Homo sapiens: one gene and its partner. The protein of the gene in region 1 purifies or fractionates together with the protein of each later gene. This does not show direct contact. Each region holds a gene or a part of one and is shown on either strand. Other genes may lie near its edges.

Evidence for each region. The genes of interacting proteins can lie anywhere in the genome.
Region 2: the proteins of ST14 (region 1) and HS6ST2 purify together in Homo sapiens (affinity purification with mass spectrometry; one large-scale study listed by BioGRID and IntAct). This does not show direct contact.

The regions. Positions count from the first base shown.
Region 1 is NC_000011.10:130,166,282-130,169,781, reverse strand, and holds part of ST14 (suppressor of tumorigenicity 14 protein), read right to left. Parts: intron 1-3,500. UniProt on the Homo sapiens protein: Exhibits trypsin-like activity as defined by cleavage of synthetic substrates with Arg or Lys as the P1 site. Involved in the terminal differentiation of keratinocytes through prostasin (PRSS8) activation and filaggrin (FLG) processing.
Region 2 is NC_000023.11:132,703,630-132,707,129, forward strand, and holds part of HS6ST2 (heparan-sulfate 6-O-sulfotransferase 2), read right to left. Parts: intron 1-3,500. UniProt on the Homo sapiens protein: 6-O-sulfation enzyme which catalyzes the transfer of sulfate from 3'-phosphoadenosine 5'-phosphosulfate (PAPS) to position 6 of the N-sulfoglucosamine residue (GlcNS) of heparan sulfate.

The sequences.
Region 1 (3,500 bases):
TCATTACTGACATTTTTATGGAGATACTTGTAGATTCCCATACAGTTGTAGGAAATCATACTGAGATCCTTGCCCAGTTTCTCCCAATAGTCACACCTCATAAAACTGTATCATAATACCACAACAGCAGTATCATCCGCGGATCTTATTCAGACTTCCCGTTTCACCGCTACTCACGTTAAGTATTAAGTTCCATCTATGTCATCGCTAGCGTAGTCCCCTGTCTCTGGCATCACAGTCAACATTCTGAACAGCTCCAACACGAGGATGCCCATGGCCTTCTGTAACCACAGCCACCTCCCTCCTGTCCCCCACCCCTTCAGCTCCACAATCGCTAATCTGTCCTCTACTACTAACATGGTGTCATTTCAAAAATTATGTTATATAGGCCAGGCGTGGTGGCTCATGCCTGTAATCCCAGCACTTTGGAAGGCCAAGGCGGGTGGATCACCTGAGGTCAGGATTTCAAGACCAGTCTGGCCAACATGGCGAAACCCTGTCTCTACTAAAAATACAAAAATTAGCTGGGTGTGGTGGCACACACCTGTAGTCCCAGCTACTCGGGAGGCTGAGGCAGGAGAATCGCTTGAACCAGGGAGGCGGAGGTTGCAGTGAGCCCAGATCACACCGCTGTACTCCAGCCTGGGACAGAGCAGGACTCTGTCTCAAAAAAAAAAAAAAAAAAAAAACCCATTATATTATATAAATAAATAATATGGTATGTATGGGACTGTTGGCTTTTTTTTTAACTGCACAAAATTCCCTGGAGGTCTTTCAAGTTGTTGCATCCATCAGCTTGTTCCTTTTCAGTGCTGAGTCATATTTCATGGCATGGAGGTGCCACAGTCTGTTTCTGACTTGGTGGACCCAGGGATCTGCAGAAGCTAGTGGGAAAAACCCAAGCCTGCCTGCAGCCTCTAGAACTGGGTAAGTTCTAAAACACGCTTCCATGGCTACAAATCTGAGCACCTGTTTTGGGGAAAGGACCAACTATGCAAACAGAGGGGCCCCACCCCCAGGGGAGGGCACCAGGAAGTCTGTGTCCTCTATTAGAACCAGACTCTATCCTGGGGGAATAGGATACAAGCGAGGGGAGAACTGCTGGATCTACCCTTGAAATTGGATTCTCAGAGCCGAGACAGATTCTGCAGGGCATGTCACCCACCTCTCATCCTCGCGAGACCATCCTTTTGGAAGAAATAGCATTTTCCTTAGTACGAGTATTAGGAAGCTCTTCCTTCCACCAAGTGTGATCAGCACTGCAATCACCTCTGCACTAATTAGCACTGCAACAGAACCAGCCTAGTTTCCCCACTCAGGAGACGCTCCAGTGGAAGCTCTACATCGGTGCTCGTGTGCTCTCTCAGTCTGCACCTCCTCTGGCTAAACATGCTCAACTCCTCTGATCATTCAAACAAAATGTTTTCTAAACCCTGGCCATCTGGTTCCATCTCACCCTTAGTCATCTTCCCTTGAAGACACCGTTTCCAGAATTCACCAGCATAACCCACAAGAGGTCTGACTAGCGTGGCCTCCACAGGGTCTGCTTGCCAATTACCTTCCTCATTCTGTTTGCTCTTTTTCTATTAATTGTCCAATGATGCATTCAAGTAACACACCCAAACAATAAAACGATTAAAATAAGAAGATGGAAAGAATGATATGTTCCCTCGATGAAAGCTTATAAGGCAATCAAAAATCGTTTTTCAAAAAGTAGATAATGACATGGAAAAGCTATCTAAGATAGAATGTTAAATGAAAAAAATAGGCTGGGCACGGTGGCTCATGCCTGCAATCCCAGCACTTTGGGAGTTCAAGGCAGGTAGACCACTCGAGGCCAGGATTCAAGACCAGCCTGGCCCATATGGTGAAACCGCCATCTCTACTAAAAATACAAAAATTAGCCTGGCGCAGTGGCGCACACCTGTAATTCCAGCTGCTTGGAAGGCTGAGGCAGGAGAATTGCTCAAACCCGGGAGGCAGAGGTTGCAGTGAGCCGAGATCGCGCCACTGCACTCCAGCCTAGGCGACAGAGCAAGACCCTATCTCAGAAAAAAAAAAAATAGTCACTCCTGCCCTTCGAAATTCAGCTCAGGCATCTCCTTGGAGTAATTCTGGGAGATCCCTCTCCAACACCTCCCTCCCAGACTCCTGTGATAGGGGAGGGAAGGGGGTCTGTCTTGCTCCACAAATCTAGCATGAGGTATGATATCTAATAAATGTTTGATAAGTTCATTAATAAAATCATATCTTTACTGCAGAGTGGAATTAGTGATGATTCCATTTGGAGGAGAATAGGTGTGCACACAAACAGCAGAACACACACACAAGACTTGTGGGAGAATATAAACAAAACTATTTATAGAGGCTCTAAAATCTGGGAGAGGGAATTTCAGAAGTTTCACATTTTACACTGTACATTTCTATATTGTGTGACTTCAAAAAGAAAAGCTTCCTAAATGTGGTAATGAGGAAAAAAATTTTTTTAGAAAACATGCATAGGCAATACCAAATTGTTAAAATGTCTTTGTAGGGGTATTTGTGTCATTTTTATTAAAAAAAATTTTTTTTGAGACAGAGTCTCGCTCTGTCACCCAGGCTGGAGTGCAATGGCACGATCTCGGCTCACTGCAACCTCCACCTCCCAGGTTCAAGTGATTCTCCTCTCTCAGTCTCCTGAGTAGCTAGGATTACAGGTGCCCACCGCCATGCCTGGCTAATTTTTGGATTTTTAGTGGAGATGGGGTTTCACCATGTTGGCCAGGCTAGTCTTGAACTCCTGACCTCAAGTGATCCATCGGCCCTGGCCTCTCAAAGTGCTGGGATTACAGGCATGAACCACCGCACCCGGCCTCATTTTTAAATTCTTACTACTTATCTGAGTTGGCTAAGTTTTCTTTAAATATGTATATATTAGACTTTTAATAATAACTTTAAAAGGTATAACCAAATAAAAACATAGGGGGAAGAAAGCACACTTCGACTTTGGGCAGTCACACTTCCATGCCTGATCTCTCCTGGGCTCACTGTCAACTCAGAACTCTGGGTCTCGTGGTTTCTGCTCCATGGTTGAGGGAGGTGGTTCAGTGAGCAAAGCACTGACTCCTGACCCAGACGGATGCATTCTGCTCAGCGCAGCCTATCAGACAGTCTGTCCAGATGCTCTGACTCATAATCAAGTCATACAAGGTATCAGCCTTTCCCTCCCAGCTGGTGTCATCTGTGGAGCTGGTAGGCAAATGCCCCAAGTCCTCATCTGAGCTGTTACTAAATAAGAAATGGCACAGAACCCAGGAAGGGGTGACGAGCAGCCTGAGGTCACCACCCAAAGTGACGTGGATTCAAGAACAGACCCCCCCTTAGGCACAGCCTTTCAATCAGACACAAGCCTACCAGAACTTCGATCCTCCAACACCCAGGGCTCCACACCCAGCAGACAGGAGGCCAATAAAACACCTTGTCCAGGATACAAGTGGTGTGTGCACAACAACCAACTAGAC
Region 2 (3,500 bases), on another chromosome or scaffold:
ATTCCTTTACTCTAATTAAGTTTTAGGGTTAGACATAATCATTCTTACCCTGGCCTGGAACACTGGCAAGCCAACTTGAAATGTAAAACCCCAAAGCAATTCAATATTTACTAAATTTAAAGGAAGTAATCAATTTCTAATTCAGATTTATGTACATTCCTTTCCCACTTTAACACTGTCTTATTTCCCTTAAGTTCCTCTTTGGTCATTAAGATTGTCAGCAAGATTATGGCCATTGAACAATTTGTGACATGTTGCAGATATTTCTAAACTAAATTAAATTGTCAATGTACCTGCATATAACAAAAAAAAATGTATTAGACACTTAAGGACAGAGACCCTATATGTTCTATATTCACAGCTGTGTTGCTCCACAGAGAGCTTGGCATGTTCTGTAAATATCTGCAGAATGAATGAAAGAAAAAAATCTATCACTGATAGAATTATTTGCACACATTCAAAATCTCAGGCACACCTGACCCAGCATATGTGTATGTGTCTACACACACATTTGCTCTCACAAAATTCCCACCTGCTCATCATTCAAGTTCAGTACATCATCTTTCCCCTTGGCACGTGCGTTTCTTAAACAAAACACTGAAACAAGATTAATGATAATAAGTGTCCAAAGAAAGACGATTTTGGCCAGGCATGGTGGCTCACGCCGGTAATCCCAGTACTTTGGGAGGCCAAGGTGGGTGGATCACCTGAGGTCAGGAGTCCAAGACCAGCCTGACCAACATAGTGAAACTCTGTCTCTACTAAAAATACAAAATTAGCCAGGTGTGGTGGCACATGCCTGAAATCCCAGCTACTTGGGAGGCTGAGGCAGGAGAATTGCTTGAACCCAGGAGGCGGAGGTTGCAGTGAACTGAGATCGCGCCATTGAACTCCAGTCTGGGTAACAAGAGCGAAAAAAACTCGTCTCAAAAAAAAAGAAAAGAAAAGAAAGATGATTTTAATTAACACTTCTTCCAAACATGCCAATCTTCCAGCACCTAAAAACTGAACTCAATTTTCATCTTAGGAAGCTGTTCCCTTATCCCTAGAAAATATAAACCTTTTAAAGTTCCAACTGCCAATTGACATCTCCAGTGCATAATAACAGAAATTCACAGTTTATCTGTTATGCCTCCCCTGGAAAGCTCAGTTTGAAGCACTTTGCTAACTTAGACCACTGTTACTTCTGCTCAGACTAATGCTCCATACTTGTGCCTTGTTTTCAACCCTTAATACTTCTGAAGCTAGATTCCTCCATCTGCATTCCTGAGAAGGATGACAAAAGCCAGACTACGCTTTCAGTCTCCTAGGACATCCTGCCCTGGAGATTCTCAGCAGGCAATTGGAAATTGGAGTTAGCCTGGGGCTCCGGAATGAATTAAGGGTTGGAGAGGTCAATTTGGGAATCATTAGTGTAGAGGTTAAAGGTGAAGCTATGTGAGGAGGTGAAGTTACCCAGGGAGAAAATATAGCAACAGAAGAGAAGCAGATCAATGACAGGACCTTGGGAATTGCTCTATTTAAAGGGGCAGTGGGGGAGGGAGAAGATGTGGGCACGCGTGTGTGTGTGTGTGTGTGTGTGTGTGTACGTGTGGAAAAGAGATCCCAACAAAGGAAACCTAAGGAATGTAGAGAAGACATCAAGATAGATTATGAACCCTTTCAAGCAAGAGAATATGTGCAAAAGTGCCAGAATCTCCAAAGAGGTCAAGAAGACTGAGGCCAGGGAAGAGGCCATTGAATTGTGAAACATGGTGGTCACAGGTAACCTTTGGGAAAGCAGTCTTTCTGATGCAAATCTTATGAACTTGTGTGCCCAAATATGCATGTGTACAGGTGTATGTGTAAGTACCCCAAATCACTGTAAGATTAAATATACTATTGAGTGAGGCTGCCGCTGGGTATGCCAAAAAACGATGGTAATAACCACCATTATCGACTGTTTACTATGTGACAGGAACAGTGCTAAGCACTTGATATGCACGATCTCATTTTAATCCTCAAAACAAGCCTATATACTGGCTACATTTCACATATAAGAAAACTACCTGAAGCCAACAGAGATGAACTAAATTACCCAACGTCACACAGCTGGAAAGTAGCAGCGCCAGGATTGGACCCGAGGTCAGTTTGACTCTAAACGCCTAGACTGTCAGTCACTGATGTAATGTTTCCACTATAGTAATGTTAATTAGGTAATCTATGCATGAAGGAAAGAGAGCTGATATTGGTTGAGTGTCTCATTGCCAGGTGATTTGCATAGAACATCTCCTTTCACACATATACCATCAACATTATGGCTATGTTTAGGTAAGCCTTATGAGGGCATATTTTTAAAATTCTGATTCAGTTGTTTTGAAAATAAGTTGAAACTATATGATTCCCAAACAACCAGTTATCATTCAAACTTACTATAATAGTTCCCAACGTTTGAAAGGTACAAAAAAAAAAAAGTGTGGCATCATTGATTTGGTGGTTGTTATCAAGATTCAAATTACTGACAATCATACTCATCTGAAAAAGGAGGGAGTGTGACGGGATGATCTTAAAGCTCCCCTCCAGCCTGGACTTTCTATGATTCTTATATGCAGGTCTAATGCCAATAATTTTAAAGATATGAAATATGTAGTAGAATGTAAATGCAGCAGCAGAACTGATTGGCATGTCAGCATCCTTTTATTCATTAACTTTATAGAGGTCTATTGTTAAAATATTATAAAAATAAGTCTGGCTGTTCAAGGCATTGATTGCTAACTGAAACTTGGAAACTCCATTACAAGATGATACACTGAAAATCCAACAAAATAATTTGCTTACAGTCAACTGCAGACCCTATGATACAGTTGGCTATAGGAAAAAGAGAGAGAGATTGACAGGCACTCTGGCTATTAATGTTTTTGCTGTCCTTAGAAAAACAAATGAGGTTCTGGTCTGAAGCAATTAGTATCGCTGTTAATTGTGCAAGTGTGTAGCAATAATACTAGGCATTTGGGATGGCTTCCACTGATTGTTCCCTTCTTTCTCTGGATTACAAAAATCTATTCAGACAACTAAAAAATAGCAAGTACTTATGCAAATTGTTAATTATGAGGCAGCGATAATCATAATCTTGTATATTTATGAAACTGCATATACAATGGGGATTACCAAAAATGTTATTTGTTTTATTGCTTTACTAGTGGTTGAAAAATATGCTAGCCTTGCAAATAGTTTTCATACATCATTCAGCTCACCAAAATTCAAAAAGGGCCCCATTGATATTTACCAAAACCGTTTCTTTCCCATCTCACCATCTGTACTCCTCTTGTTTTCTCTCATTAAGACCAGGTATTAGTTGCTCTGGCAATAATCTGGTCCAACTAATCAACACCATAGTAAAAATAAAGAGTGTGTCAGGATTTGCTTTGTTATACAGCAAAACTGTTTTAAAGAGATGGTCCTATCATCTAGCAATTTTAAAGCAAAAAGAAAACAAAATTCTCAAGACTTCCCCATAAAAG